Regions from separate parts of the Homo sapiens genome. Here regions 2, 3 and 4 are each linked to region 1. Evidence: fine-mapped expression QTL. A gene starts in region 1. Each other region holds a variant in brackets. All regions are shown on one strand. Distances are from middle to middle.

Region 1 (8,099 bases):
CAGGACCTCATGGTGCAGGTTGGGTTCTAAGGTTATAATACCTGTCTCCATCCGTATGACCAAAGTTGCCGGAACTGCCGGCCTCAGCGGGAATGTGGGACCCAGATGTGATCTGAGTCGCATCGAGGAGCTTCCTGATGGTGGAACACGGTGTGAGAGTCACCTATTGGTGTAAGAACCCGGAGGTGTGCTTCCAGAACTTGCTGCGTGTCTGTGCAGTCACTTGGAATTCAGGTTCTTTGCTTCGCAGTTGCAGAAAACGCCACGCACTCCTTCTCCAAGCAGGGCTTGTCGTAGGGCTCAAAGGAGGTAATGGGTGTGAGGGTCCTTTCCGTCACTTGGTGACACGTGGTGTGAGGTCATCAAACTGGAGGGAGGTGGCTGAGGGGGTGAGGCTCTAACAGCGCAGGTGGGACTGGCAGGCAGAGAGATGAGAATGCTGCTGGCTTGGGTCGGGGTCAGGGTTGAGGGAAGGAAGGAAGGAGTACCTCGGCCTTAGCCAGAGGGGCTGAAGCGACGGGGGTGGGGGTGGGGATGGGGGGGTGTAGGGCAGCCGAGTCAGTGACCTGCTTCCCTAGCCTGGAGGGGTGGGCGCTATATCTTAGAGTTCCCAGAGAAGAAGACCCAAAAGGAAGGGAGCCCTCTCTTGTCTGGAGGCCACACCTGTTAGAGAGGAAAGGCAAGCAGTGAGAGCCTGGGGGCAAGTTGAACAGGGAGAGCAGAAGCAGAGGTGGCGGGAGAGTTACAGACTATGCCCAGGGCTGCGGGAAAGCAGCTTGTTAGGCACTGAGCCCACCAGGCTGCGCGGGGCCTCAGACCTTGCCCACATGAACACCCAGGTCTCAGATCCACACACAGGCATGCAGGCACCAGCCCCTCCTTATCCTCAGAGACATGTGCACATGTGCACAAACTCAGAGACGCCACAGCCAGCTGAGCATTCTCCTGTAGAGGGGCTTGCAGGCCTGGCTTGGATCCTGGCCCTTTGACTTACTAACTGTGTGACCTTAGGCAAGCTAACCTCTCTGATCCTTAGTTTTCTCTTCCATAAAACAGGAATACTGCTACTTACATCAGTGTTGTTAGAGTCCAGCAGATGCTATAGGGACAGCTGCCCTGGGGACACATTCAGTCAAACCCATCCTATTTCCCATAGCTGCAGCCCCACCACATCGGACTGTCAGCATCACAGAAAAGTTCAGGAAGAGTTTAGAGATATCCTTGCTGTCCCCAGTCTCAGACTAGGTTGCACTGGGCTCCAGGAAGGAGGCTACACATTTATTGAGCTAAGCATTTTTTTTTTTTTTGAGACGGAGTCTCGCTCTGTCGCCCGGGCTGGAGTGCAGCGGCACCATCTCAGCTCACTGCAAGCTCCGCCTCCCGGGTTCACGCCATTCTCCTGCCTCAGCCTCCCGAGTAGCTGGGACTACAGGTGCCCACCAACACGCCCAGCTGATTTTTTCTATTTTTTAGTAGAGATGGGGTTTCACCGTGTTAGCCAGGATGGTCTCGATCTCCTGACCTTGTGATCTGCCCGCCTCGGCCTCCCAAAGTGCTGGGATTACAGGCGTGAGCCACCGCGTCCGGCCGAGCTAAGCATTTTCACTAGAAGGCAAGGAAGACGTAGTCCTAAAATAATCCTGGTCCTGTGGCCTGAGGGTGCTACTCCACACTCTTCACCAAGTGACAACACAGAGCAGTACTGTCCAAGATAAGCAGGACCTGAGTCATCTGAGCCCTCTGATTCTGGGGAAACAATGTCCTCCCAGAAAAGGGAAAACTGTAATCATTTTTCCCCCTTCAAGTTCCATTCATCCACTCGTTCATCCATCCATCCGTCCATCCTCCATCCATCCATCCATCCATCCGTCTGTCCATCCATCCATCCGTCTGTCCATCCATCCATCCATCCATCCATCCATCCATCCATCCATCCGTCCATCCATCTGTCCATCCATCCGTCTGTCCATCCATCCATCCATCCATCCATCCATCCATCCATCTGTCCATCCATCCATCCATCCATCCATCCTCCATCCAATGAACACTGAGTGCCTATTCTGAGGCAGAATTGTATTAAATGCTAGAGGCAGAAATAAAGAATTATGAAATGAGACCCCTGACATATAGATATTCATGGTCAGGGGAACAGTATGCTTCAGTGGAACAAGCATAGATTTTTGGAGCCAAGAGGCCCAGGTTCAAATCCCAGCACCATCACTTACTTGTGTGTGGCCTTAGGACAAATCACTTAGCTTCTATTTATTCACCCCAGTTTCCCGTCTGTAAAATGGGGCTAATAATTTTTACATTTCAAAGTTCTTAAGGGGATGAAATGAAGTAACATGTAAAACTCCTCGTCCGAGTTAGATGCTCAGGAAATAAGTCCTATTCCAGGCCCTCTGAAAGTATGGATGAGATTAGAAGATGAGGGTGGTGAGAACATTCTGTGGTGGCCAGTGGTTCCTACTGCAGCAAAGGTGATAGATTCATTCAGCTACCTGTCGTCTTCACCCTGCACACTCCTCAGTGTGGAAACAGCCCAGTCTCAGCTAGGCTTTCCAGGATGCCTACCTTTTGCAAAGATGAGAGTCTCTGGCCTCCAGGAGTTTACTAACCAGTCTGAATACCAAGTGGGTCTTGGAGGCTAGGAGAACTTGAGTGAGGAAGGGCTCAACATTAGAGAGTCTCTGGCCTCCAGGGGTTTACTAACCAGTCTGAACACCAAGTGGGTCTTGGAGGCTAGGAGAACTTGAGTGAGGAAGGGCTCAACATTAGAGAGTCTCTGGCCTCCAGAAGTTTACTAACTGGTCTGAATACCAAGTGGGTCTTGGAGGCTAGGAGAACTTGAGTGAGGAAGGGCTCAACATTAGAGAGTCTCTGGCCTCCAGGGGTTTACTAACCGGTCTGAACACCAAGTGGGTCTTGGAGGCTAGGAGAACTTGAGTGAGGAAGGGCTCAACATTAGAGAGTCTCTGGCCTCCAGAAGTTTACTAACCAGTCTGAATACCAAGTGGGTCTTGGAGGCTAGGAGAACTTGAGTGAGGAAGGGCTCAACATTAGAGAGTCTCTGGCCTCCAGAAGTTTACTAACTGGTCTGAATACCAAGTGGGTCTTGGAGGCTAGGAGAACTTGAGTGAGGAAGGGCTCAACATTAGAGAGTCTCTGGCCTCCAGAAGTTTACTAACTGGTCTGAATACCAAGTGGGTCTTGGAGGCTAGGAAAACTTGAGTGAGGAAGGGCTCAACATTAAGATGGTGGGACTAAGGCCAGAGGCAGTCAGATAAAAACAGGGAGGGACCAGGTAGCTCTTTTGGGGGAAAGTCAAACTGTACCCCCTGGGCCAGGTCAACCAGGCAGCTGTTCTCTGACAAGGTGAAGGAGAGGTGACAGGACTGCTGGGCTGTTGCTGTTCATCCTCACAGAAAGCATGTCACACTGTATGTGCTAAATATAATTTTTGAGGGAACCAACAAGGAAATTCACCATCTTGGCTTGTCTGATCCTCTCCCCTCTTTCTCCTTTTTATGGAGAGGCTGGTGTTTTGTTCTGGAGTAGCTGTAGCTAGGTGATCACATGGACTTTGATGTCCCCTCTGCAATAACTCTGTGGTCAATCCATGGTGGACCTGACATGCAGGGACAGGCCACACCTGAGCACCGGGGTAGCTCAAGTATGGATTCTGGCTGGGCCATGTCCTACTGTGCCACAGCTGACCCCCAGCCCGGCTTCTGCTTTCATAGAGGCAATGGGTCTGAGAGCTGAGACCTGCTCTGCCTTCCTCTTCATGTGGAACCCCACAGGAGAGGCTGAGAGGGGCCCGAGAGACATATCGTGGGGGTGCTTGATGGAAAACTACAGACTGAGAGTCTCACTTCACACCCCACCCCTGCTGGGAAGTTCTAAAATACACAGAGGAAGCACATGTAAAAGGAAATTTCCCTTTCTCCCTGCAACTTCCTCTCCCTTCATACCACCTAGAGCTGAAGAAGCACCTCCTTTGTCTTGAAGGAGGCACCAGCTATTCTGAATGAAGGGCGGTGGGACAGTGCTGTACCCCACACCAGGTGGGCGTGCTCAGGGACAGTGACCAGGACGCTGTTCTGGAGGAGCTCACTGGGCACACGGCATAGGGCACATGTATTCAAAAAATACCCTTCCCCATTGATAGCTGGCAGGCCACTCCAGACAAATTCTAGCTAGGTGCCTGGTGCTATGCAGTGACCAGAGGTGCCTGGGACCAGACACCCCACCATCCCAGCCTCTGCTTCCAGAGGACACACAACAAACACCCACACCTCCCCTTAAGCACCTATGATATCCCTGCACCCTCACAGCAACCCCGCAAAGTAGATATTGTGTTGTTACCTACCTTTGACAGACTGGGAAACCAAGGCTGACCCTTGCCTAGCTGTCGTGACTGATACATGATAGAGGAGGAGAAGAAACTCAGGTCTGTCTGGTCCCAATCCTGGGTCCTCTCTACATTGCTTCTTGAGGTACGCTCTGGGTGCTTTCTCTAGGAAAATCCCAAGGAGAAGGGTTGTGAAGGTCCAGGGCCTTGCCTAGAAGCCACAGAGGGCAGGTACTTGGTGGAAAACTCCAGCGTGTGATTCACCCTCCTCCCTTGCCCTCGTCAGTGAGGTCACCTCCCCTCCCAAGGTTCTCAGTTTATAGCCTGGAGTCTCTGGTAAGAGAGGGCTGTCCCCTGTGCTGCACATACCCGTCTCCTCATCCCTGGGAAGGAGATGGTTCTGGAGGGGGATAGGGGAAAAGGGGGAAGGGGGAAGGGCAAGGAGGAGGAGGAGGGGAGATGAGGTCAGGGTGTGAGTCTCTGAGCCCCTTCCCCTGCCCAAGGGAGCAGCAGCTCAGCCCAGCTCTGGAGGGGCCATCATGGGACTGTGCCCACGGGGAGGGCACCGGTCTGGAGACAGTGGGTTCACAGTGGGAGTGGGATGGGGGTGGGAGCGCTGGGGACAGAGGACTTGACTTCCTGAGGTTGGATGTTGTAATCTCGGTTCACAAACTTTTGGCCTCAGTCCCTCCTGCTGCTCCTGGTATTTCTCTGTCCTTTCACTCCCCAACACACACAGCCCCCGCCCCAACACATACACACACGGCTTCTTTCTGTCTGGGAGTCCCTGGACAAGTCACATGGGATTCTGCGCTGGGAGGAACAGGGTAAGGCGTGAACGTGGAGGGCAGTTTCCCTTTCAGGTCCCGGCTCTCTTGGCTTTCCCATAAGCAGCTGCCTTGGGACTCTCCTGGAGACCTGATGCCCACAGCCAAGCTGACCACAGGAGCCGGTGCTGGGGACTGAGGTGAGCGGGAAGTGGAGGGGCTGGCTCTGTCTTTGCAGTCTCCAACTGCTGCTCAGAGGGGCTGGAGGGATAGAGCCCTGGGAAGCGAGACTCTGTGGAACTGCGTGTCTGCAGCGGGGGGCAGGACCTGCAATAACCTCAGGCCAAAGGGCAAGTCTGATGCCCACGACTCTCAGGACAAGGGGTGCCCCCTAGCTCCGCCCCATCCAGCGTGGGAGCAGCTCAGTGATTAGCCTGTGGAGCAGGAAAGTCCAGCGATGGGCAGCTGGTCACGGCAGTGGGTGAAAGCAGGGGTGGTCATCTGACGAGGGGAGGGGAAGCAGGTGGTGCCCAGCAAGGTGGAAGGAGAAGTGGACAGGAGAAACCTCGGGGCATTCCCGAGGGCCCAGGAACTGCAATAAATGATCACAGGTGAGGGGTTCCTGCCCGCTGCCTGCCGGCTGAGCGTGACGAGCTGGGTGCCAGGCGCCTCCCAGGAGGAAGCTGTCTTGGCTTTGGGCGGTGGATGCTATGGGTGTGCTTGTACCCGAGGGGGGCACTCAGGGGAGTTGCAGGCAGCCACCAGCTGAGACCGGCACTCACGGGGTGTGAAGGACTACAGAGAGAGCCAGGTTTTGGTGCCATGCACACAGGTATGTGTGTGCGAAGGGACGTGACGGGAAATGGCACCAGTGTGTGTATGGGAATGGGTGTTGGTATGTGGGTGTGGACTGAAGCAGGGGCTGGGTGTCCCATCCCCCCGTGTGCAGGGTCTGAGCTATTCCTATGCTGGACTGGGGAGCAAAGGGGACAGAGCTGGGATCCCAGCAGCACATGGGCAGCAGCATTTCTGGTCTCGTCTGCACCTCTGCTAGCCCCAGCTGGGCCTCTGGCGACATGCCCAGCTCCTGAAAACAGACTTAACTTTGGACTTTCTAGTCTCTTGAAGATTTGCTCTCTGGGCAGCACCAAGCCCGGTGTGGAAATTGGTGTGTTTGCTTCTGGAGGGCACTGAAGTATGATGAGGCCCATCCCCCACCCCTCACCCCCCTGTCCCGGCTTAGCAAAGCAGGTGGGCGGCCTTGGAGGAGACTCGAGGGGCTGGAGAGGCGGCCAGCCGAAGCTGGAGGTGGAAGGGCACAGCGGGGGTGGGGTGTGTAGTCCTTTGCCTTTTAAAAGTAGCCCAGAAAGGAGAACTCAGTACAGCTTGTTTTGGTGTCTAACATCCTCTGGGCCATTTCTTCCCTGAGTCTAACTTAAATCCCTCTTGCTGCAGTTTAAGCGTGTTCCCTCTTGAGTTACCACGGCTCGGGGCCAGCTGTCCTTTTCACTTGCTCTTGCTTTCATTCTGCCGTTCTGGATTTTCATTCTGAACCACAAGTTACGCTCCTCCCGATTACTTTTTTATTTTCATTTTTATTTTTAAAAAATCATGTTGCGTCAGTGTCGGTTCACCAGCTCATGTTCTCTTTTTGCACTTCCCCTATTTCTGATGAAACCCAAATCCTGGGCCCAAACTGGATTCTGTGATTCGCTTCCCTGCCCCTGCGCCCCTCCGGCTTTCCCTTCATTTACTCCTTCCCCCAGCAAGCCTCCACTCTCCCAGCCCTTGAGACCACCTTGGTCCTGCCACAGCTGCCTGTGGTCTGGAAACAGTAAGGCTCATTTCTGACCACCGCCCTAAGGGCCCTTGTGCTTGGGGCTCGCCCTGGGATTAGCAACGCTATGGCCCGCGAGTAGAGGCGGTCAGTTCTCCGTCTCTTTATTGAGTCTTGTTTTTATCCCCTCACCCTCCGAAAACCCCTTTGAGCAGTGGTCTTTCTCTCTTCCAGGGAAACTTAGAGTTCAGAGAGGGGGTGTGATTTGCCTGAGGTCACACAGCAAGTTAGAGACCCAGCTCCACGACTCATTGTCTTGGTAAGTGTATTCTAGCATTGAGAACAGTGTCCCCCAGGCGCTGCAGGTGCCAGGCACTGTTCCTTAATCTCTTGGAGCTTCACTTCCTCACACATAAAGTGGAGCTAATAGTGACACCTAACTTCAGAGATTCTTAGGAGGATGCACTTCAATAATACGTAGAAAGAGTGCCTGTCTTTAACATACTGCTGACTCAGATGTCAACCTGTTGTTATTATCATTAACAGCTAGATCTGGATTAGAACTTGGGTTTCCTATCTGGTGCATTTTCATGCGTGTTTTCAAGCTCGCTCACTAGTTTGTTAATTTATTTGGTGATGATTCCAGGGTCATTTCTCAGGGTGCCTCATTCCTAATTCTGTAGCAACATCCACATTTGGGTTCAGATGTTACCAACTTCTCCCCTGGGGCCCAACTCCCCATTTTTTCATCCCCAGGCTCCAGTGCTCAAGGCCCCCATGGGTCTGATCACATACTCTGAACCCAGAGGCTCTCTTTCCTCCCTCTTTTCCCCTGCCTTCTCCCTCATAACAGAGACTCAAGGCCTCTGATTCCCACTGGGTGGCTATCCTCATCCTCCCTCCTGGGCTGAGCTTACAGTGGAAGGCTCTGAGTAGGTCCCAATACCAGAATTTCACTCTGACATGCTTTCCCATTCCTGGGATAACCTGCACCCTCCAAGTCACCTTCAAAAATTTCCATTACCTCAAATGGCTCCTGCCCACGCCTTTCTAACTGACTTGGGCTTGGGCTGTTGCCTGGGTTAAAAGGACCAGTAAATAAACACAGACTCTTCCTTAATAAAAAGAATCCCTGTTTCTCTAGAGCCTTGGAGGAGCGTGGGGCACTTGGTAGACCTGGTCGCTTTGATTCCCTCAATAC
Region 2 (8,099 bases), 31 kb after region 1:
AGCACCCTGTGTCTAGCTCAGGGTTTGTGAATGCACCAATCCACACTCTGTATCTAGCTTCTCTGGTGGGGACTTGGAGAACCTTTGTGTCTAGCTCAGGCGTTGTAAACACACCAATCAAAACCCTGTCAAAACGGACCAATCAGCGCTCTGTAAAATGGACCAATCGGCTCTCTGTAAAATGGACCAATCAGCAGGATGTGGGTGGGGCCAGGTAAGAGAATAAAAGCAGGCTGCCGGAGGCCCTAGTGGTAACCCGCTGGGGTCGCGTTGTGTGCAGTGGGTGCTGTGTGTGTGGTTTGTTTTTTTTTTTTTTTTTTTTTTTTTTTTTTTTTTTTTTTTTTGCTCTTTTGCAGTAAATCTTGCTGCTGCTCACTGTTTGGGTCTACTCTGCCTTTATGAGGTGTAACACTCATTGGGAAAATCTGCAGGTTTACTTCTGAAACCAGCGAGACCACTGAACCATCGGGAGGAAAAAAAAACTCCAGACGCGCCGCCTTCAGAGTTGTAGCACTCATCGCGAAGGTCCGCAGTTTCACTCCGGAGCTGGTGAGACCACGAACCTACCAGAAGGAAAAAACTCCGAACACATCTGAACGTTAGAAGGAACAAACTCCGGACACGCCGCCTTTAAGAACTGTAACCCTCACTGTGAGGGTCTGCGGCTTCATGCTTGAAGTCAGTGAGACCAAGAACCCACTTACTCTGGGCACACTTTCATCTCGTTTCCTTTGGTGTTTGAGTTGCAGACTGGTGAACAGAGGCCAAATCTGGCAGCTACAATTTGGCCAGTGTGGCATGAAAAAATTGATTTTTGCAGCAGAAGCCCTGAGGCATGCTGGAGTTTGCCACAGTCTTCCCACTTCTGTCACACCTGGTTTTCTCACATATTCGCTTTTGCGTTTGAATTCATAATCTGTGCCCTAGCGGAGAAAGTGAGAACTTTGGGCAGGGGAGGGAACAGGAGCCCTTGGGTGCGACGCAAGGGACAGCAGAGGGCAGTGGTTGGGGGTCCTGGTGCCTCAGAAGGGGTGGTGGTAGCAGGGTTACCACAGGCTCCAGCCTGCTCCGGTGTGGACCTCACACCCTATGATGCTATTCATCCATGAATCCTGGGTCAAGTCTCTCTCCCACCTGGACATTCTCCCGAAGAAGGGTAGTGGATACCTCTAATTTCAGAGCTACATCTCAATAGATGTGTTAACATCAGCAGCGCCCACGTGGCAGAGTACACCAAAGCTTAATTGTCTGGGGGGACAGTTGGCCCAATAGAGAGGCCCACGTGGAATCCAGGCCTCCCACTAATGGTCAACAGCAGCAGCTTGCTGCAAGGTGAATACACTGCGTGGAAATGTATCCTCCCAGCTGGCCAAGGCTTCTAGTGGCAGCAGCCCTGGCTGACACAGGGACTACAGCCTTACAGAGGCACTGAGCCAGAAATGCCCAGCCAAGTGGGCCCCAAATGCCTGACCCCAGTGAGAGGTGAGAAATGCATATGGTTGTTTTAAGCCGTAAGCTTTGGGGTGATTTTTTACACAGCAGTAGATAATACCTATCCTTGGATCCAATTGCTTGCAGTTCCTTCACCTGGCTGACAGCTGCTGTGGCTGCCGGTGGAAGGCCTCGGCTCCTCTCATGTGGGCTCTCTGTTGGGTCAAGTGTGCTCCTGGACAGCTGAGCTTTAGCGTGCACTGTGGCCTGTGGGTGCTGTCGTGGCCACTTCCCAGAGCGCGAGAGTCACCCTCTTTGAGAGTCAGGCGTGGCCCCTCTTCAGAGGCGTCCCTCAGCCCCCTCGTGCCCTTCTGCCTGAGCCTCCTGCCTCTCTGCCACAGCCTCACCTCCTCTGACCCCTCCAGAGCCCTCCCCTGACCCTGGGCTCACCCTGTCCTTGCTGTGAGGAGGTGAAGACTGGCTGTGTCTGTCCCTGCCACCTCCGTGCTCGCATGCCCAGCTTCCTTGCAGGTTCTGCTGCTCAGTGAAGTAACAAGGGCTGATTGGATCTAACAGGGATGAGAAGCTTGTTAACCACCCATTGATGCAGCGGCCATGGGAGGATGTGTTTGCCAGACAGGATGGGGTGAGATGAGAGCCAAGCCTGGCAGGTGGCACAGGGTTGAGGTGGGTCAGTGCCCTGGGCCCTGGCGACCCGCACTCCAGCGCTCTCTGCTTCCAGTCTGGCCACAGCAGGGGCAGATGGCCTGTCAGGTCTGAGGAACCTGCTGGCACGTGACTGGGAAGTAACGGGAGGCGAGTGCAAGTTGCCAGATGATGCCACAGACAGAGAGGGGAGCTTGCTCCCTGCCAAGGCTGAGTCCTTGCAGGCTCGTGTCCATCCACAGGGTCAGTGCATAACCTGTGGCTATAACAAGAGTCTAGCCGGAACTTCTGGTGCAGTCACATTCTGAGGCTTTTTCTGCCCAAGCACATCTCACTAACACACAGAGGGTGGCTGTCACATCCAAAAGGCCCTGGCCCCGAGGCCAGAACTCTGACACTGCACCCCAGCATGAGGGACTCGAAGTGGGCAAGTCCCTTCCCCAAGCAGGACTCAGTCCCCATCTCACTAAGACACGGGCACAGGGAGCAAGCAAAGGTAGCCAGAGTGGGTCCTGAACAAGTGCATTTGGAATTTGGGTTTGTCATGGAGAGGAGGTTCCGGGGAGCAGGACAGAGGGTAGCCATGACAGCGGGTGGGGCCGGGGGAGCGGCCTTACCCGGCCAGCTGTCCGGAGACCTGGGCTCACTGTCCAGCCTCAGCCTTTTCCTCTGGGTTAATTAAAGTTGTTGTTTTCCTCTTGGTTCTTTAGGGTGTTTTACATAGACACTCAGACTGTCTGGAAATAATGACAGTTTTATGTCTCCGATCATGATTCTTTCTCTTATCTTCCTTCACTTGGTAACTAGAAGTGGTGGCAGCTGGCATCCTTGCTTCCTTCCTGGTTTTGACAGGAACCCTAACATTTCATTAGGAAGTATGACGGCTGATGATTTTTTTTTTTTTTTGAGACAGTTTCATTCTGTCCCCCAGGCTGGAGCGCAGTGGCTTGATCTCAGCTCACTACAACCTCTGCCTCCTGGGTTCAAGTGATTCTCCTGCCTCATCCTCCCCAGTAGCTGGATTACAGGCATAAGCCACCATGCTTGGCTAATTTTTGTATTTTTATTTTTTTATTTATTTATTTTTGAGACGGAGTCTTGCTCTGTCGCCCAGGCTAGAGTGCAGTGGCGCCATCTCAGCTCATTGCAAGCTCCGCCTCCCGGGTTCACGCCATTCTCCTGCCTCAGCCTCCCGAGTAGCTGGGACTACAGGCGCCCGCCACCACGCCCGGCTAATTTTTTGTATTTTTAGTAGAGATGGGGTTTCACCGTGTTAGCCAGGATGGTCTCGATCTCCTGACCTCGTGATCCGCCCGCCTCGGCCTCCCAAAGTGCTGGGATTACAGGCATGAACCACCGAATTTTTGTGTTTTTAG[T/C]AGAGATGAGGTTTTGCCATGTTGGCCAGACTGGTCTCGAACTCCTGATCTCAAGTGATCCACCCACCTCGGCCTCCCAAAGTGCTGGGATTACAGGTGTGAGCCACCATGCCTGGCCAGCTGATGATTTTTGATAGATATCATTTACTGGGCTATGAAGTTTTCTTCCATTCCAAGTTCTATAGGTTTTTTTCAAATCAACAGTAAGGGTTGAATTTTATGGATTGCTTTTTCTGCATCTATTGAGATAATTATATTGTTTTTCTCCTTTAATTTGTTAATGTAACAAATTATTATATTTTTCTAATATTCAATCATCTGTTCATTCTTGGGGCAAACCCTACTTGGTTATGGCATATTTTTTTTTGTTATTCAGTACTAGGTTCAGTTTGCTAATATTGTGTTTAGAATTTCTGAATTTATGCCCATAAACAAGATTGGTTGGTAGTCTTCTTTTTCTCATACCGTGCTTGTCTGCTTTAGTTTTTGTTTTTGAGATTACACCAGGCTCATGAAAAGGAGTTTGGAGATGTTCTGTTTCTCTTTTCTGAAAGAGTTAATATGATATTGGAATTATCTGTTCCTTGAAGTGTAGTAGAATTTTGTAAAATCATCTGGCCGGGTGTTGTGTGTGTGATTTTTCTTGGGGGTGGGGGCTGGGCGATGGTGAATAGACTTTCCTTCTTTTTTATTTTTTTTGAGACAGAGTCTCACTCTGTCACCCAGGCTGGAGTGACATTAATTTTTTGTATTTTTGGTAGAGACGAGATTTCACGACGTTGCTCAGGCTGGTCTCGAACCCCTGAACTCAAGTGATCTGCCCACCTTGGGCTCCCAAAGTGCTGGGATTACAGGCGTCAGCCACCATACCTGGCCCTCTTTTTCTTTCTTTTTTTTTTCTTTTGAAATAGGGTCTCCCTCTGTTGCCCAGGTTGGAGTTCAGTGGTGCAGTCACGGTTCACTGCAGCCTCAACCTCCTGGGCCCAAGTGATCTGCCTACCTCAGCCTTCGAATAGCTGGGATTACAGTTGCATACCACCATGCCTAGCTTATTTTTAAGATCTGTGTATAGATGGGGGTCTCACTATGTTGCCCAGGCTGGTCTTGAACTCCTGGCTTCAAGTGATCCTCCTGCCTTGGTCTCCCGAAGTGCTGGGATTCCTGGCCCTAAGACTTGTAATTACCTATTCCACTTTAATTTAATGGTTATACATCCCAAATTTTCTGTTTGTTCTTGAGCAAGATTTGGTAAGATATTTTTCTAGCACAGTGTTCATTTTGTGGAGGGTTTCAAAATTATTGCCATAGGTTTATAGTTTATTTGAAGTATTTTATTTTGAAAATCTCTGCAGCATTCATAGTTACGTTCTCCCTGTTGGTCCTCAGGTTATTCATTTGTGCCGTCTCTCTTCTTCGTGATCAGTCTTATCAGAGGTTTGTCAACTTTATTAGTCATTTCTTAGAACTAACTTTTGGTTGTGTTAATCTTTTCTATTGTATATATATTTTCTATTTTATTACTTCTGCTTTTGTCTTTATTGTTTCTTTCCTTTGGGCTTATTCTGTTCTTCTTTTTTAACCTCTTAAGTGAAGTAGTCCCCTTAGCCATAGAAGGATGACTGGCCTGTGACTCAGCCTGCAGGCCTGGCACTGCTGTATGACTCCCCTGCCTTCCATTCCCTCTGAGGGTGCAGGGAGGGAGGCTGACTCCTACCCTAGATGTCTCAGAAGGAAAGGGGATTAGGGTTTCTTGAGGAAAGGAGGGCAGGGCAGGTCTGTCTAGGCAGTTGGAAACGTGGGAGTAACAGCCAGGTCGTCTTCCCAGCAGCCGGTTCCCACAGTTTTCCCAGAGCCAGGCTTGAGGTCACTTAGTCCTTAGGGTCATGGGAGCAGGAAGCGCTGAGGTGCTAGGGGCCGGCTGGTGGGTTAGGCAGCCTGGTTCCCTAGGGAGGGAACCCGTGCAGCCCTGCAGGGGCACGGGAGGGAGGGCGCAGGGGAGGAGAGCACTCCGCCCACCCGCTGAGCTCCAGCTCCCTCTCCTCCAGCCCATCCAGAAGGGAATTCTGGCAGAACCACTTCTGGACCTGTCCCTCTGCACCCCCCATTCCTGCGCCCTCATTTAACCTCCCTGACTCTGACCTGGGCTTGGTCTATCTTGGGGCCTGGCTGCCGTCCTGGGACGGGAAGGGGAGCAGATCAGAACTCAGCCTGCGGCTCCAGGCCGCTGGGCGCTGGCTGGGCCTCACGTTCTCCTGGAAGGACCACCTCCCTTGCCCTCCACGGGGTCTGCCTTTGCTCCCAAGGCTCCGCCCTGGACGGAGCGTCCTTCTTGCCTGGGCGTCTTCAGACCTTCATCTGTGACACCGGGGGCCATGTGGCTCACCCCGAGGAAGGTGAGTGAGGGGACCTGGTGCACAGGGTAGTCGACCGGTTGCTGAGTAGTGAGGAGTCCTGGCAGGAAGCAGCCCTGAGTCCCTGAGCGGCAGAGCTAAGGAGCCAAAGCCAGCACCCCCAGAGCTGCTGTCCGCAAGTGACCTGAGAGCAGTGGCACTAGGAGGGCCACACCTCCCGCCTGCTGCCCCCTGCTCTAAGCTACCTCCCGTCAAAATGCCTTCCTTCCAGGTGTCTCCATGAGGACACCACGGGGCGGTTGGCAAGTTCTTTCATCCTGGAGTCAGCACATGTGATTGATGGTGACTCCCAGAAAGCAGTGATCAATTGGCCACATCTGTCAGAGCTGGGATGGGAGGGGGCATGCCGAGGGCCGCAGCCATGTAGTGCCAGCCCCCTGAAGGAGAAATCAATCTCACTTCCGTTCTGTGGGGTTCACGCTGAGACGTGAAAGGCTGTTAGCCCCTGGACTCCTTGGGACTGCTGTGCAATAGGCCATGGAGTCCATTCCATTATTTAAAAATGGCAAGCCTAGGCCGAGGTGGGTGGATCCCTTGAGGCCAGGAGTTTGAGACCAGCCTGGGCAACGTAGTGAGACTCCGTCTCTACAAAGACAAACAAAAATTATTCAGGCATAGTGGTGCACACCTGCAGTCTCAGTTTACTGGGGAGGCTGAGGAGACAGGATCCCTTGAACCCAGGAATTCAAGACTAACCTGGGCAATATAGAGAGACAGCCTGTCTTTTTATTTTATTTATTTATTTATTTTGAGACAGAGTCTCGCTCTGTCGCCCAGGCTGCAGTGCAGTGGCATGATTCCGGGTCACTGCAACCTCCGCCCCCCAAGTTCAAGCGATTCTCATGCCTCAGCCTCCCAAGTAGCTGTGATTATGGGCTCACGCCACCATGCCTGGCTAATTTTTGCATTTTTAGTAGAGACGGGGTTTCACCATGTTGGCCAGGCTGGAGAGAGACCCTCATCTCTACAAAAATAATAATAGTAATTTAAAAATCAGCAGGGCGTGGCGACATGCACCTGTAGTCTGGGCTACTTGGGAGGCTGAGGCGGCAGGGTCCTTTCAGCCCAGGAGTTGCAGGCTGCAGTAAGCTGTGATCGTACCAGTGCACTCCAGCCTGGGCGACAGACCAAGGCCCCTTCTTTGAAACATAAATACAGGAAAAATTTGAAAATGGCAAACCTGAGCCCTCTTGGTTTGAGGTGACAGAGGAGGAGGTGGACAGCAGGCTGCCTTGACCTGGAGTGGGCTGCTCCCCATCCCTATGCAGGGTCACACAAGCACGTGCTTGCTCTGGGCAGCAGCTGCCTCGGCTCAGGGTAGCCTGACTTCACTGTTGCTGGTTTGTGCTTTCTGCGGTCTACTTCGGTGGCCTGGTCTTCCTGTGGTGGTGGCTGCCCACGTGGCCTAAGCTCTGCCCCACCCCCGGCCCCATCCTTGCCTGTCCAGAGCGCCTGACTGCTCACTCTCAAGCACTTCCTCTCCTGGCCTGTGACTGGTGACCGTCTGCCCTGGATTTGCTAGAAGACCAATTTTGCTTTCCTCAGTAAAGATGTTTTGAATTCATGTTTACACTTAATTCATAAGATTTTTTCATGTAAGTAAACACATATATCAGGAAACAGTTTTTTGACAAACTGTCTTGGTTTCTGCCTCATAAATATGTGGTCATTTGACTTGAAGTGATGGTCTCCGAACTGTTCACCTGCCCTCAGACCAGACCTTGACCTTGTTGAATTCTCCTCCTTGGAGAGGCCTTCCTTGAATGTTCACCCTAAAACAGGCTCTCCCCATCACCCCAGCGGGGTCACCATCCTCTGTGTGAAGGCAGCTGCTCCATTTCTTGTTGATGACACCCCCCAGTGTGAACTTTCCCTGTCCCCTTCACTGCATAGCCCCCAGCACCTGAAACAGTGCTCAGCAGGTGGTCTCAAACTTACGGTTCAGTTCACCCTGATTTCCAGCACTAGCTCTGGGTCACTGCTCTCAGCCAGAAACCAGTACATCCTGGGACCCCTTACTGGGAGCATTCTAAGTCTATGACTGATGAGTCTGACATTCTCCCATCTACAAAGGGTCATTATGGAGGGAGATGCACGGACTGTAGCTCTCCATCCCTACGGCAGATAGGCACAGAGGGGCCTGGACCACCAGACGGGCTCTATCAGAACAGGATGGTCTCCCTCTCACTGGAGGGACAAGCATTCATCCTAGATG
Region 3 (8,099 bases), 60 kb after region 1:
TTGGCGTGTTTTGAGGCTGGAATTCTATCCCCAGCCAAACTCCCAACCAAGGGCAAAGACAGAAAAAGATACATTCAGAAATGCAAGTTCTCAAAAATGGCCTTTTCTCTGAAAGTAAACTAAAAATGAGGAAGCTCTGACATGCAGGAACCAGGAATCTGTCATGAGAGCAAGGGAAGGAGGGCCCAGGATGCAGGCTGTGCCCTGGCCCAGCCACTGTCCAGACTGGAGCAGGACCAGAGGCTCCCGGAAGATGACTCTCCCGCACCACCTCCCAGGTCTGGACATATGGAGAGGAGCTTGATACGTAGGGTGGGAAGTGGGGGCTGAATCAGGGGAGGTCCTCAGAGAGTTAAGCAAATGGAAAGAGAAGCATTAACTCCAAGGAAAGTATAGATGAAGGGAGTTGCAATCATTCTGCACTTGCAGACTCAGCTTTGGAGTGTGTGTGCAGAGCCCTAATAACATGAGCACTGACGTGAGTGGGATGGGTCAGGGAAGGTGGATGAAAGAGGGCTAAATCCTTACATTCTATAATGGGGAATTAATAGATCATGCTTAAAATAAAAATAATTAACAAGGGCCAGGCGTGGTGGCTCATGCCTGTAATCCCAGCACTTTGGGAGGCTGAGGCAGGCGGATCACCTGAGGTTGGGAGTTCAAAACCAGTCTGTTCAACATGGTGAAACCTCATCTGTTCTAAAAATATAAAAATTAGCTGGGTGTGGTGGTGCACACCTGTAATCCCGGCTACTTGGGAGGCTGAGCCATAAGAATTACTTGAACCTGGGAGGTGGAGGTTGCAGTGAGCTGAGACTGCACCACTGCACTCCAGCCTGGGCAACAGAAATAATAATTAACAAGGAGCAGTGTATAAAAGAGACCAGATACCAAAGTATAAATACTGTATAGCTCTATTTAGATGAAGTTCAAGGACTGGCAGGACTCGTCAAATGGTGATAAAAGGCAGAATAGTTGTTACTCTTGGGCGAAGGCATTGACTGGGACGGGACAGGAGAGAACATTCTGGGCAGGTGAAAATGATCCAGATCAGGATCCAGGTGTGATGACACAGTGCACGTGACCGTACACATTCATCAAACTTCAGGCTTACACACTCACAGTCTGGACTTTATGCCAGTTAAAAAAAGAGATAGAAAAAAGCGAAGCAGAAGCCTGCGGTTTATCGATACAGAAGAAACGCAAATAGCTAAAAAAGTCAAAAGTGGTTGCCTCTGGAGAAGGTGAGTGGTGAGAGGGGCAGCGACTAATTTTTTTCTATGATAAGCCTTGTAGGATTATTTGACTTTATTAAATTATGTGGATGTATAACTTTGATTCTTTTAACGGGTAAAAAAAAAAAAACAATTGCGCACACATCACACTCTGCCAGTCCTGGTTTGCTCCCTGCCAGGCAGTGCGCTGCATCGATGAGAGAAGGACTTGCCAGCTGGTGCCATACAGTTATCTGCAAGGCTGACTTAAATGGACCCAGGGCCCTGCTCCTGGCTCCTTCCTTGTAAGTTGTGGAGGGGAAGGGCTGGCACCACTTGAGCCGCCAGCTCTGGTGTCAGGGGCCTAGAGGCCAACCATGTTCCACGGAGGGCAAGAGGCACTGCCCAAGGGCGCTTGCTGTTTGGTAGAGCGGTGGCGGTGGCAGGCTGCATGCCGGAAACTCCCCAGCCGCCTGGCTCACAAGGAATGTTCCCAGCTTGCTATGGGTGACCAGGCCCAGACAGCAGGTGACCATCTGTGATAGGGGCTCAGACTCACAGAATGCACGGTGCACAGAATGGGGCCTGAGCCGTGGCCTTGCCCCTCCTGCCCCAGTGCCCACCTCCTCACCTCGAAGGTTTCGGATGAAGTCCTCCAGCATCATCTTCCGGTCAGGCTTGATGTTGGGGCTGTACATGTCGGTGTTGAGGAGGATGATGGCGAAGGCGAGGATGAAGATGGTGTCGGGGTTGTGGAACTGCTGAACCACTTCGGGGTTGCACATGCAGTAGCGCTGGCTGTGGGGGGGTCAGATGCAGAGCGGACGCTGAGCCCCCGCCCACCCTCCCCCGGGCCCAACAAAGGAAGGGGGTGTCCAGGGGGTATCCCAGCTCTCCGAAGGCTTTAGGTCCAGGGAGACCAGTGTCTGTCCCATACTCTGGTCTTTTTCCCCACACCCCCAAATGCCCCACATTTCCAGCCTGGGGAGCTCGAGGGGTCGGTCCCTTTTCTTCCCTTCCCTTGTTTCTCCCCAGCCATCCTCCTGCCCACACCAGAAGGGGTGTTTCTGGCCCAATGTCCAACCCTCCTGATAGCATCTCCTGTCTCCCAGGCTCACAGCGGCCCGGCTTCCCCACGCTGGGGTCTGTTGGGGAGTGGAGCTGGGAAGCGGCCTTACCTGAAGGCCTCAATGAGCCGCTCCACCTTCTGAGCCTCCCCCTGCACACGGATGTGTGCCTGGAACTTGCGCAGGGCCTCGTCCAGCTCCATGCTGGAGAAGTCCATCTCGTCCACCACGCAGCTGAGGGCAGGCAGGGAGGGTGTGAGGTCAGGTGGCACCCTAAGCACCCTCCAACACCCATTCTCGCTGGCCTCTGTTCCCAGCCAGGACAGGTGCAGGGCCCCTCAGGCTACTCACCCCCGGGGGTCGCCCTTTAATGCCCCAAGAGGACCATCTCCTCCCACCTGCCACAGTAGCCCTTTCGGAACCCAAACCCTGAGGCCAGGAGAGGCTTTGGTGGCCCAGGACACAGGGGTGGAGGGAGGCTGAACTCGGATCTTCCAACTCCAAATCCCAGTTCCTTCCTTCTTAACCTCAGAGTACCCCAAGCAAAGCTTTCAGCATAAATAATACAGTAAACATATTGATTCTTCTGTTCTTTCAGAGACCCGCTAGGAGCCTGTGTTTCTCCCAGGTTTAAATTTCACTTTCTCATTTAGGTCTTGAGGGGGCTGAGTCCTCCGTTGGATCCCTTCTGCTGTAGGCTGAACAGTTAGGAGCAGAGCCCCTCAAGCCCCTGGGGCTTTCTGCAGCCCAGCTCCCCCCAGCTGCCCCAGCTCCCCACAGCTGCCCCAGCTCCCCCCAGCTGCCCCAGCCCTCAGGGGAGGCTGTGATGGGAGGCACAGCCTAAGAGTAAATGACAAATGTGCCTAACGTGAGGGGACAGCGTGACACGCAGGGTCAGATTCTGGTCTGGGCCCTCCTGCGAACTTGGTGTGACTCTGGCTTGCCCACTCACTCCTGGGGCCTCTGTGTGACCTTCTGAAAAGGGAGGAGGCTGGAGTCCCTGCTCCCCAAGGGCCTTGCTACCTCTGAAATGCTGCCTCCAACCCTGGGGGGTTTGCCTGTGAACATCCCGAGCTTCAGTGTGTGTGGGTGGGGGTGTGGGGTCACATGCCAGTTCCCCCCAGCTAAGCAGGCGCCTTCCTCTGGTCTAGCCCGATCCAGGGGACTCTGCACTGCAGGGTCTGAGGCCGAACCCTCCCAGTCCCCTCACCCTGCCTCACCCTCCTTTGGGGTGCCCTGTCCCCAGGGCCATGTGCAGCAAGGCAGGAGTCCAGGCCTGGAAAAGCAGGGGACCCAATGTCCCCTGGGCATTGCTTTCCCTTTGGGAGACGCAGACCAAGCGCGTTAGATTGGGCTCTTGGAGCTGACGTTTGCCCACTCTACACCCACTCACCCTAGTCTCCTCCCACTGGCTATGGCACAGCCCCTGCACTGCCCCTGACACTGCCCACTGCCGGCAAGCAGTCCCACTCTGCTCCCATGGTCCCCTGGCCTGCCTGCCCACCACATCGAGAGCACAGAAAACGCCTGCTGAGTGGCCCTGTGATGGTGACATGAGCTCTGAGGTGGACCCACTTCCTCCATGACCTCAGCTTCCATTCGTGCCCACTGCCTAGAAGACTTGGAGACCCCCAACTCTGCCGTCAGTTTTTAGGAGAAAACAAGGGGAGACGCCACAGTGGAGGTGGTCAGGGCCTGGTGGTCCATGGACTCCGCCTCCCACAGGTTTCTGGGGAGAACAAGGAGAAAAGTGCATCACCGAAGACTCTTAGAAAGGGAGGGGGCGCCGAGAGGGAGCTGGGAGTCTCTCCTCCTCTTTCCTTTTCGCCTCTCTCCCGTAGGCAGGGCCCATGGCCATCTTCAGGCTATGAGTTGTCCTTGGCTTGGTCAAAGCCCACTCCTCTCAGGCTTGCTGGCCGGGACAGTGGGCAGGTGAGGGTGGGGCTGGGGTGGAGGCCAGCATCTTGCCCAAGCATGAGAATCGGCAGCACCAGGATCAGGGCATTTGAGGTTGAGCTGACGGCTGGGGAACAGGGGCCTCCAGAGCCAGCCAGGCGAGAGGCTGCTCTGATTTCCCGGTGGCCCTCCTCACCTCCACCCTGCACCCTTTGCAGCCCTACGTGAGTGCCAAAGGCCCTATGCGGCCACATCCGTGTGTTCCTGTAGCCCAGCCCATCAGGAGTCAGCAACTGGGCACAACAGAGCCACACAGTGACACTGTCCAGGGCTGGTGACCAAGAGGCTGTGGTCCGATGAGTACAGAGAGAGCCTGGAGGAGGTGAACCAGCATGGTCACGCAGCAAGGGGGTCAGAGCGTGTGGGCCAGAGAGATGGGGCGGGGCAGCGAAGGACAAGGAAAGTCTAATTCGACAGAGAGCAAGGAGAGAAAGGGAGGGACAGGCAAGGAGGAAAAGGCAGGAGAGAGATCGCAAAAAGGGAGCAAGACCGGAGACTGAGATAAAGAACAAGCAAAAAACAGAGACAGGGAGGAAGGCGGAAAGACAGAGAGGCACGAGGAGAGGAAGGGACAGGAGGGGAAGAGGAAGAGACAGAAGAAGTCTGGTAGAGATGAAGATGTGAAGTGCACCGCGGACTGTGGTGGGGGCGGCATGGAGCGGCCAGATGCCA[C/A]CCTCTCAGCCCAGGGGCGCTGACTCTTATGAGGCCAAGAAAGAGGCCTGGGTCCTCAGGGCCCCAGAACGGCCCTTGGTCCCTCTGAGTGCCATCCTGCTGCTCCCCAGGACTTGCCCCCATCTGTCGTGCACCCCACCCCTTCCCTGTTTCTGAACGCTGAGGTCCTGGCACCCGGCTTCCCACATCCACGTTCCTCCCAGAGCCTCTCTCTGAGTGCCTTCTGCCCCAGGGCTATGGACCAGGTCTCACCCTGCAATGGTGGGGGTGCTGGGAGGCCCAGGGCACTGTGGGGGCAGGCTGCCGCAGAGGCAGCGGGAGCAGCTGGTGAGGGTGGCATCTGCCCAGCCAAGCACGATGGCCTAGTTTCCAGCCCTTCACTCAGGTGACAAGCAGCCGTTCACTCACTCAAGTCTGCTGCTAAAAGCCCCGGTAGTGAGCTGAGAGCCTGAGAGCCAAGGACCGGGATGGGGGAAGCAGCCAGGTTGAAAAGTCGGCCCACAGAATGGGAGTTGAATACACCCCTCGTGGGCCTCGAAGCGGGGAGGGCTGCAGGGGTGGACACTTGGGCTGTGGAGCTGGAAGGGCCTCTCATCCAACATCTTCCAGTGTGTGCTCTCAGGACCCCACAGCGGAGTCATAAGGTGGTTTGTTAAAATGCAGCTCGCTGGACCCCACCCCAGACCCAGCAAATTAGAATATTTGGGGGCAAGTCCTGGGAATCAGCATTCTCTGCAAGATCTCCCGGTTGTTCCTAAATTGTGAAACCAAAGACTGAGCTGAGTGCAAGGGTAGGCCTCACTGCGGCTTTTAAAGTGAGTCCAGCAACTCACAGGCCACCAGGCAGCCGTCCTTAGGGGCATGTGTCCCCACCTGGCTATCGGGGCTGCTTTTGCATGGGGGTGGTGAGGGAGGGGTGGATGGAGGCATAAACAGATGTAGTTCTTCCCCTGGCTATGCACCTGCCGTCCTGCCTTCCTCCCCTCACTGCATTTGCCACCACAGGGTATCTGTGTTTCATGAACAGGTGCTATTCTGGGTTTCTCAGACCCTGGGGGAAAAAATGACATTTTCTGGCTGTGAAATCCCTAGCTGGAAGGGAGGAAGCTGTGCTGAGTGGTGGGACACTCTACCCTCCTGCCTGAGGAAGGCACTTCCTCACTGGAGAGCTGGGGGTTGGACCAGGTGACCTCTCAGGACTGGCACCCGGAGGCACGGGCCATCTCTGAAGCACTGCAGACGCTCCCAACGGCAGGGGGCAGACGACCCGCAGCAGCACTCCTGGCTGGCTGGTGGCTTCATCCCCACCCTCCTCTAGGGGGAATCACTGATCACTGTTTGCGTTCCTGATGGGGCCTGTGTCATCCTGGGGAAGGTGGCTGGGGGTGGGACTGTGCTGTCTACCATAAGCCCTGCTCATTCCAGGGTCCGTGTCCCCCTGGAAGCACCTATAAGCCTCGGCCCTCTACAGCATGAGCCTCCTCTGTTCACTCCCTGAGCATAAGCTTCTGCTTGCACCGTGCCCTCTTTTGCTCCCTCCCCTTCTCTCACTCTCTGTCCTGCTGCTTCTCTTATTTTGCAGTGTCTACCAGCACTCCTAATTCCCACTTTCCAGCCTTCTTTGCTGCCCTGGAATCCTCTTGGGGAGCTGAGTGTGGGCAGTTTACCAAATCCATGCTGCAGCCTCCACCCAGGGTGGCCTGGAGTCATCTCTCCTCATTGGTCATCTTTAAGGTAAAGAGCACCACACATTCCCGGGTGGTCTTTTCTGGTGTATCATCTCCCCATTTTACAGAAGACAAAACTAATGCCACGTAGGGCTGGCCCCATGCTCCCACAGCTAGGGAGAGCAGGCTTTCAGCTTCCTAATCTTGTGAGGCCTCTCCCTGCCCCACTGGGCTCTCTTCTCTTCACTCCTGTGTGTGTGTGGGGTGGCAGGGAGGTCCCTTACTCAAGTCGGGGGAGTTCCCTCTGAGCTCTCTGTACTGAGTATGGCTCTAAGTGCTTCACTATGTGTGCAATGACCTCATCTTCTCAAGCTTGTGCAATATGAACCATTGTACCATTATGTTTTTATTACATATGAGACTGAAGTACACTAGACAGCCAGCCCTACAGGCGTGCTGCACACATCTCATTCCTTGCTGACATCTCCTGGGGCAGGTGGTCCCCTGTGCCCTCCTCTCCCTCACCTCTCCCTGGCTCTCTGCTGCTCAGTGGCTGGCACTAATGCATGTCTTCCTAGGGGCTGTGATCTTACCCAGATGGCTTGGTGGGGACCTGTGAGAGGCCAAGGAGAAGCCCGTGGACACAGTTACACAGGAGAGCCTCTTGGTGCATGCGTGGGCAGTCAGCACGGGGGCTCTGTGGTCACCCTGCAGGTTCAGAGCTGGCCTGGGCACCTGGAGCCCACAGCAGGGTCCATATCGCTGACCTCCTGCCTTCCCCTTTCTGGTGCTTTTTGTGCCCTGTGGCAGTGGCTGGTTGACTCTTTCAGCAACGAGCACTGAGTGGCCCCGTGTGCAAGGCTGTGCTCGGGACCTGGTGTAAGTGGCCAGCAACACAGTCTCTGTCTTGGTGGGAGAGACAGGCATTGAACACAGAGTCAAAAATAATTCTTTACCTATAGTCATGATGAGTTCTATGTAGGGAAACGACGGTTCCAGGAGAGGACAAAGGAGATATATTTTATATTGTATGTCTGGAAAGGACTCTTTGGGGACATGGCATTTGAGCTGAGGCCTGAAAGATGAGTAGGAGGTGGCCAAAGGAAGGAGAGAGGGGAGAGCTGTCAGGTGGGCTAAGGGAGGAAGCATATGCAAAGGCTCACGGCAGGGAGGAGCTTCAAGGACCTAGGCAGGGTCCGCAAGGTTGCAGTGCAGACAGTAACAGGGAGAATGGTGACTGTGGGGCAGCAGCCAGGGCTCAGTCTGTCAGCTTTGTGGGTCATGAGAAGGATTTGGGAGTTTATCCTGAATGCACTGGGACACAATAGAGGGTATGATCAGAGGAGCGACAGGGTCCTGTTTGTTCTAAGAAGATTTCCCTGGCTGTTGGAGAGAAAATGAATGGCAGAGGGGCAGGGAAGAAGACAGAAGCAGGGGCCCAGTTAGGATGCTACTGCAGAGGTCCAAGCTACAGATAATGGGGCTTGGGCTAAGGCAGGAGCAGTGGAAACAAACTGAATGAA
Region 4 (8,099 bases), 88 kb after region 1:
GAGCAGCTCTGCTCACTTCCCTCTAAACCCCAGGAACCAGGAGGAATGATGGCCTCGCCCCCTGCCAAGAGAGCAATTTCTCAGCTTCTGCCAGAAGAAGCAGCGGCAGGGGCGCGGGGGCCTCCGTCTCTCTAATGAGCCTCTCAGTGTTAATTAGAACGTGCCCCCTTCTTTCAGGTTGCTGTGGCAGCTGAGCCTGAAGAGGCCGCTGAAAGATGGCGGCCAAGCCAGAGGGTGGGGAGGAAGAGCCGCTAGCTGGGGGGCACAGTGCTGAGGAGCGGGGGCCAGGTGTGGGGAGGAAGAGCCGCTAGCTGGGGGGCACAGTGCTGAGGATCGCGGGGAGGTGTGGGGGGCTTCCAAGGGTTTGTTCCCATCCAAGACTTCCCAGTTGAGACCATGAAAGCACAGCATGTTGTGAGCCTCCAGAACTTGGCCTGGCGAGCCCGGGTGTGAGGCTGAGGAGCAGAGAGACTGGGGAAGCTGGTGCTTTGGGGGTGTTCAGAGAGGCCCACAGGAGCCTTGGGTCTGTGCTGGGCAGGGCTGTGGCCTCCTGCAAGGCAGGGGACTCATGCCTGCTCTGTGTGCCCTCCTCCCAGCCTGCTGTCTGGAATACAGCAAGTGCTTGACACGCAGGGCGTTGAGGCCTGCCTGGGAGTGGGCAGCCAGGTAGGCATGGGGGACACGCTATGGCTCAGCTAGTAGTGAGGTCATGAGACCCTCCAGTGGGGCTGCCCCAGGAGCTGGCTCTGATCCCAGGTTGGGCTGCCTGCCCTCCTCATGCTCCACAGACCCTGTGTGCCACTTCCATGGGGCCTGTTCCTCACTGTAATGCCAAGAGATGGTGGAAGGTACAGGGTCGAAACCATGGGCTGCGGAGTCCATGTCTTGGCTGCATTACTTCCTAGGACTGTGTCCTTGGGCAAGTTACTTAACATCACCATCACTCAGCCTTAATCTTCCCATTCCAGAAATGGGACGGTAATGGTGCCAATCTCACGGGGACGTTGTGCAGACCCGGGGAGATAACACATGGCAACCGTTAGCCTGGGCCTGACACAGAGCTAGTGCTCAGGTAGTAACACTGGTGCTGGCCCCGTGTCTGCCCACCACTGGGCTGTGGGCACCCTGATGACTAGGCCTGTATCTTTTGCATCATAGCATCTCCAGGCCTAGCACAGGGCCTGCGACAGAGCAGCTGTGCAGTGCTGTTCCCTGAACTGAATGAACCGGGGAGAGGGACAACCCATGGAGTGCCCTGTCCTCACCACTGTCCTCTGTAGGCTGGTGCCCTGGTGCTCTCTGTGCCCATGGTAGAAATCTCACTTTCAGCGTGGGAAGGGGCCAGGAGGCCCTCTGGTACAGCCTTTGGTTCACACATGAGGAAACCAAGATGCAAAGAGGGAAAGTGACTTAGAAACATAGCCACCACATCTTCCTGAAGAGGTGCCCCATAGTGAGGCTGGACCCTGAGGCTTGGGGTATGGGGATCTGTGGGGAGGGGCTGCTCTCCAGCAGAACATGGCTTCTGTCCAGGACCCGGCTCGGGGAGCAGGGCCCAGATTCTACTGACTGCAACTCCACAGCCCTCTGGCCTGAGCAGCCCAGAGGGCTCTGCAATTCAGATGGCTAAGAAGGGCTCCAGTCGCTCTGCAACAGGACACAAACTCCCTAGAGGGCTTGGAGGAATTTCAAAATGACACCTAGGCCCTCTATTCCTAAAGGGCTCCCCAAAGGGACCTGCATGCTCACTCCTTGGCCTGCCCTAGGTTGTATCCCCCAGGACTGCTGGGGTGGGGTGAGAGGGTCGAAGGCAGAGGGAGAAGGGGAGAAGAGCTGGCAGGAGGACCGTCTTGCTGTGCGACTTGTGACAGGTGCTGGGGAAGGGGCCAGCAGGGAGAACAGGAAGCTGGAGGGTAGGCCTCGTTTGCTCATTCACTTGTGCCTTCATTCCTATGTTCCTTCCCTGCTGAGCAGTTCCTAGGTGCCCAAGACTGTGCAAGGTGCAGGGCGGCAAAGATGGGCAAGGACAGGACAGTTCCCAGGGCACAGCTCCAGGAGCGCTGGCTCTTCACGTGGGCTATGCAGCACCCTGGAGGTGTCCCGAGCACCACCTGCTCAACTCCACACAGCCCTGAGAACAACATGGTCCATGCTGTTGAGCGGAACAGCTCCCACTCCCAGACAGCACAGAGGAGGCAACAGGCAATGGGTAAAAGCACGTGCCTCGGCTGCGACCTGAAGTATGAGCAGAAGTCTTCCAGATGCAGCAGATGGGGTCGGGGACAGGTGAGGAGAATCCCCAGGAGAGGAAACAAAGCCACACAAAAGCCCAGAGGTGAGGGTGGCTTGAGATTCGGGACAGCAAATAGGAACGGCTGGAACCCCCATGGGGCTGGGACTGTGGCAGGGAGCCTGGAGAGGCCTCTGTCCTGCACACCGTGAGGAGCCATCAGAGGCTTTCCCGAGGATCAGCGCGGTCAGAGGTGCACTTTAGGAAGATGATTCAGCTGCAATGTGGAGGTGAGGTTGGAAGGGACAGAGCTCAAAGAAGGGGAAGCACAGGAGGTCTCCCGGCGTGCAGGCAAGAGGAAGGATGGCCTGGCCTCCTGGGGCAGGGGCACTGGGGAAGGCAAGAGAGGGTGGGATTCGGGAACTGTTAAGAGGCAGCATCAGTGGGGCTTGGGGCTAGAGCAGAGGCGAAGGAAGGAGAACAGCCAAGGAAAACCGTCCTGGGGATCTGGACTGGCTGACAGAGGAGGCTTGGCGGGTCGGTGGGCTGGGGAGCTAAGATTGTCCAACACCCCTCCCAGGCCATGGAACACGGGATTCAGTGTGGCTGGCGGAATCACTGGGTTGGAATATCAAGTGTTAGATCTCAAAGAGACCTAAGGCAGAGTCAGTTCCTGGCGCCATGCTGTATACCCATCCCATCCCCCTTTATGTCACTAAGTGATCATTTCCCGTCTCTTATCCTTCCAGCAGCTTCTTCGCCAGGCACTGCATTAAGCACTGAGAATATAATGAGGAACAAGTCATGCACCTGCCTTCAAGGAGGGGGTCAAGCAAACAGGAAATGCTGAC[A/G]CAGGGCTGAAGGGCTGTGACGGGGACACCCGGGCCCTGTGGGATGACTGAGAGGGACACCCAGTGCAGGCTTGGGAGGCAGGGAAAACTGCCTGAGAGGAGGAAGAGGTACCTAAAGCAAGTACTAAAGCAAGAGAAGGCCAAGTGCAGGGGTGTGGAGGGGAGCGGAAACTTCAGAGATTGAGGCCAAGGGAAGAGCCTGTGAAGTCCCAGACATAGGAGGCAGCTGAGGCCAGAGAAGTCAAGCAACTTGCCCAAGGCCATACAGCTCATGGCAGAAGAGAGAGGAGTCGAGTTCAGTCTCCTATAGATGTGTGCCATGTTCAACAAAAGCCAAAGTTGACAAATGGGATCTAATTAAACTAAAGAGCTCCTGCACAGCAAAAGAAACTACCATCAGAGTGAACAGGCAACCTACAAAATGGGAGAAAATTTTCGCAACCTACTCATCTGACAAAGGGCTAATATCCAGAATCTACAATGAACTCAAACAAATTTACAAGAAAAAAACAAACAACCCCATCAAAAAGTGGGCAAAGGACATGAACAGACACTTCTCAAAAAGTGGGCGAAGGGCCTGAATGTCTTATGCTAGTGCTGTGGGGTTTTCGAAGCTGGGAGCAGAATTTTAGATTTTTCCACATTTCATCCGACTTTTTTTTTTTCATTAAAACCATCCTTCTGTCCTGATGAGGTGTTTTTTGTTTTGTTTTGTTTTGTTTTGAGACAGAGTCTCACTCTGTCGCCCAGGCTGGAGTGCTGTGGTGCAATCTTGGCTCACTGCAACCTCCGCCTCCCGCATTCAAGGAATTCTGCCTCAGCCTCCTGAGTAGCTGGGATTACAGGCATGCGCCACCACGCCTGGCTAATTTTTGTATTTTTAGTACAGACAGGGTTTCACCATATTGGGCGGGCTGGTCTCAAACTCCTGGCCTCGTGATCCACCCGCCTTGGCCTCCCAAAGTGCTGGGATTACAGGTATGAGCCACCACGCCTGGCCCCTGATGAGGTTTTTACAAAGTCTGGGATGCTATCACCAAGGTATCAGCTGTTCTCTTTCAGCTTTATGTCATCAGAAAGCCAGGTGAATGTAACTTGTATGCCTCAAATTGGTGCCTTATCAGTGACCTGGACAGCATGTCCACTCAACTCCCTGGGATTTTTTTTGATGAATATTTTTTGGATAATTCGGTTTGAGAACAACCCTCCTTACTATATTGTTAGTAATCCACACATTCCTGGCATGTGCACATAGGGTATCTTGGGGGATTTGGTCAAACACTTTACTGATGTGCTGCCTACAGCTGGCCTGAGCCAGGATATGAGCTTGGCATCAATGCCAAGAGAGGAAGGAGGTTAGTTTGGCTTGACTCAGTCTTAGTGGCCTTCCCACTAGCTTCCTTTCTGAAGATACCTTGCCTATTGGGTTGAAGAATTGTTCTCTAGAACCTACACATTTTGGGGCAGAAGGGACCTTGGAGGTGATTCAAAGTTAATTCTCATTTTTTTGCAGATGAGGAAACGAATGCCCAGAGGGTTTAACTGGCAACTCCCAAAGTCACTGAGTTCATAGGAGGAAGAGCGAGGACTGGATCCCATGTCTACATCTCCAAGTTCAAAGCTCTTTCCTTAACAGTATCACACCATCACACCTTTCTCTAAGCGCACACACACACACACACACACACACACACCTTCCATCAAGACTCTTGTCTGCCAAGACAAACTGAGGCATTATCTTTTTTGGGGGTTCAATGGGGGCCCCACAATTGGCCACTTTCTCTTCCTGAATGGAAAATGGAGGCCCAGGCCCCTCCATGGAATCTGTTCTCCAATAGAGGAGCTTTGGACTCCCCCAGTCTGGACTGATCTTGGGAATCCTGTCTGCTTCGAGGAGACCATTGTCTTTGTGCCTCGTTTGTGCCTGTGGGTGCCTAACACCGGCTCCCTTGGTGGGCGTGGAAGCTGGACTATGGCCTCTAAGCAGCAGATGGAGGTGGGGACACCCCAGAGAACAGTGGGCTCCTTGCCTAGTGGTCAGTGGGGCGGTGGAGGCTTGCTGAGCACTGTGTGAGGAGCAGAGCCCCTGGACGTGCTGCCCAAGGGCCTGGCATTGCGAGGGTATGAGCCCTGCCATGGTAGAAGGCAGAGGCCTGTGGCTGGTCCAGGGAAGGGCAAACTAGGTCGCTCAATGCAGGAGAACTGTGGCAAAAGAGGTGTGCCTGTAGCGGAGGGGACCCAGCGGGGATATCCCTGGTACCCTCGACAGCCCCCAAAGCAGGGCCCCTTCACCACCCTCCCCGCCCCCCTAGGAGGCCCTGGGTACCTGTTTATTCTTTAGGTCAAGGGAGAGTTCGTAATCGGAGGCGGCAGGGGCGTGGGGGCACAGCGCCGTCGCCAGGGCAGGCTGCTGCCGGCCGGGGGAGGCCTTGTGCTGGGGGCCAGCCCTTGGGGAGGCAGCCCCTGCCCCCGGCCGCTCCTCCTCCTCCTGCAGCTCCTGGGCTTGAGCCTTCGGGGCATGGGCACTGGGTCTGCCGGCTGCCACCGCCGCCGCTGCCACCACGGAGTCCTCCATGCCCCCACCGGCCTGGGTGCAGGAGCCATCACTGTGAACAGAAGGCAACGGTGCTCGGTTGGGGGAGAGGGCGACAGGGTGCGTGTGGATGTGGGGGTCGGGGAGAGAAGCTAGGCACTCTGGCCTGCCTTTCCTGTGGCAAGGACTGGAGGGGGTGTCTTTCACAGTCTCCTCTAGGGAGGGGCTACCATGGCAGGGATGAGCCCTGGGCACGGAGAAGAACCCGCACCTGGGGAGGCAGCTCAGACAGAGGGAAGGGGCAGCTATGGCCAGGGCTCAGGAGCCTCTGCTTAGAAGCAGTATGGCAGAGCGGTGCATCTGGGCTCTGCCTCTTACGAGCTGTGTGACCCTGAGCAGGTCACTCAGCCTCATTGCACCTCTGTTTCTCCATCTATAAAATGGGCACAGTAACAGTACCTACCTCACAGGGATACTGGCGGCTGAAGTTACTTACAACTCTTTAAGCTGTGCCTGAGTCATGGTGACTGCTACATGTGTTACCTATTGTAAGTATCGGTGGCCCGGCTCCTTGGGCACAGGCTCAGGTGGCTGGGGAAGCTGATCTACACTAAGCCAGCTCATCTTTAGACTGACCAAATGAGTCTGGAGGAGGCAGGGTGCCTGGCCTGGCTTGGGCATAAGCCTTTCCAGGGGGGTGGACTCCAGGTGTGGGGGCTGCGGCTGTGAAGAGGAGGCTTCCTGCCCTGCTGGGTTTAGAAAACACCTGCTCCTCCCTGACCCATCCTCTGTTCCCCGGGAGCCACAGCAGGCTGAGCCATGGCTGCAGCCCTCCTGCCTACTCTAAGAAGACACCTTGCTGCCTGGAGCAGACATGGTCCAGCCTGCTTTGTAGAGTTGGTTCCCTCAGATTGCTTCCTTCCCCACTAGCCTCCAAGTTCTGCCCCTCCCTTGAGGCCCAGTGCTAAGCCACCTCCTCCATGAGGCCTTCCTGGACGACTGCAGCTTTCACTGCTGTGTCTCCTGGAACACTAGGAGCTGTCCTTAGAGAGTCACTGTCTATTTCCCAGAGGAGGAGAGTCATCGTGGTTAACACCATGGCCTCAAATTCAAGCTCTACGACTGTGTGGCTTTGGGCAACTGGCTTTTCCTCTGAGTCTTGGTTCCCTTGTCCTAATTCCTACCTTAGGAGGTCCTAGTTCCTACCTTAGGAGGTTACAGTGAGGAAGAAAGGAGGCAGCAGAGGTCAGGTGCTTAGCACAGAGTATGTGCTCAGTAAATAAACTTTCTTTTTCTTTTCTTTTTTTTTTTTTTTTGAGATGGAGTTTCACTCTTGTTGCCCAGGCTGGAGTGCAATGGTGAGATCTTGGCTCACTGCAACCTCCACCTCCTGGATTCAAGTGATTCTCCTGCCTCAGCTTCCCGAGTGGCTGGGATTACAGGCATGCACCACCACGCCCAGCTAATTTTTTTGTATTTTTAGCAGAGACAGGGTTTCACCATGTCAGCCAGGCTGGTCTCGAACTCCTGACCTCAGGTGATCCACCCGCCTCAGCCTCCCAAAGCGCTAGGATTACAGGTGTGAGCCACTGTGCCCGGCCCAGTAAATAAACTCTTATTTCCCCAGCTATCCCTTCCTAGAAGCCAGGGCCTATGTGTTATTTCATTACGTCCCCCAGCCCCTTCATGCTGGGCAAATGCTGAGTGCTTAGTCAACACTTGTTGATGGTGAACTGAGGAGAACCCAGGGGCCACGGGGATGGCTCTACAGTGGACAGTGACAGAAAATCAGGACTGGAAGGGACCTCAAGGTCATCTAATGCAGCCTCCCAACCTCCCCATTTTTATAAATGAGGAACAGGGGCCCAGGGTGGTGGGGTGGCCCTGGTGCAGGACAGCTGCAACCTAAGGACTTATGTCTTCCAAGACTTTGCCACCATGAAAGATGGGCCAAATGACACCAGAGGAGGGACCTCTTCCTGCGGCTTCCACTGGACCTTAGGGTGCAGAGAGGTGTTCCTCCTGGTGCTTCCTCCCAGCCAAGGGTGGGGTTGAGAATCTCCCTTCTCTCAATCTCCATCTGCCCTCCCAGCACTCTCCTGCACCTCTGGCAGATAAAGGAGTGCTTGCTGGCTGGCCCTGGCCGTGAAAAATCTTCATTGCTGCTGCCTTTTTCTATGTCCACCATTTCTTCTGTGGCCACCAATCAAGCTGCATGGCTCAATATAGCTCTAGATGTCTTTTTTAAAATTATTATTTATTTATTTTTGAGCCAGTGTCTCACTCACCCAGGCTGGAGTGCAGTGGCTCAATCACAGCTCACTGCAGCCTCAACCTCCTGGGATCAAGCAATCCTCCCACCTCAGCCTACTGAGTACCTGGGACTCCAGGTGGGTACGCACCACCACACCGGGCTACAGGTGGGTACGCACCACCATACCGGGCAAATTTTTAAATTTTTTTTGTAGAGACAGGGTCCCACTAT

The links. PIP is the estimated chance that this variant, and not a neighbour inherited with it, causes the effect.
Region 2: its variant is the best candidate, but not a certain one, in a credible set for the expression of SLC6A12 in whole blood (INTERVAL, PIP 0.63).
Region 3: its variant is the best candidate, but not a certain one, in a credible set for the expression of SLC6A12 in whole blood (INTERVAL, PIP 0.65).
Region 4: its variant is the best candidate, but not a certain one, in a credible set for the expression of SLC6A12 in ileum (GTEx, PIP 0.56).

The regions. Positions count from the first base shown.
Region 1 is chr12:211,144-219,242 of GRCh38, reverse strand. It overlaps SLC6A12 (solute carrier family 6 member 12), which reads left to right and starts at 5,086. Exons shown (of 16, transcript NM_001122848.3): 1 at 5,086-5,321; 2 at 7,133-7,217. RefSeq lists enhancers at 5,205-5,976, 6,688-6,737, 6,749-7,521.
Region 2 is chr12:179,835-187,933 of GRCh38, reverse strand. IQSEC3-AS1 (IQSEC3 antisense RNA 1) reads left to right here and starts at 5,526. Exons shown (of 3, transcript NR_183431.1): 1 at 5,526-5,866. It also overlaps a transcript of SLC6A12 not described here. RefSeq lists a silencer at 2,491-2,681 and an enhancer at 5,446-5,947. The variant T/C (reference allele first, on the strand shown) is at 3,474.
Region 3 is chr12:151,441-159,539 of GRCh38, reverse strand. It overlaps IQSEC3 (IQ motif and Sec7 domain ArfGEF 3), which reads right to left. Exons shown (of 14, transcript NM_001170738.2): 6 at 2,393-2,515; 7 at 1,846-2,012. Among named protein-coding and RNA genes, the nearest start is that of IQSEC3-AS3, 6.3 kb to the right of the region's middle. RefSeq lists an enhancer at 5,590-6,504. The variant C/A (reference allele first, on the strand shown) is at 4,910.
Region 4 is chr12:123,221-131,319 of GRCh38, reverse strand. It overlaps IQSEC3 (IQ motif and Sec7 domain ArfGEF 3), which reads right to left. Exons shown (of 14, transcript NM_001170738.2): 3 at 5,408-5,687. Among named protein-coding and RNA genes, the nearest start is that of IQSEC3-AS2, 16 kb to the right of the region's middle. The variant A/G (reference allele first, on the strand shown) is at 3,082.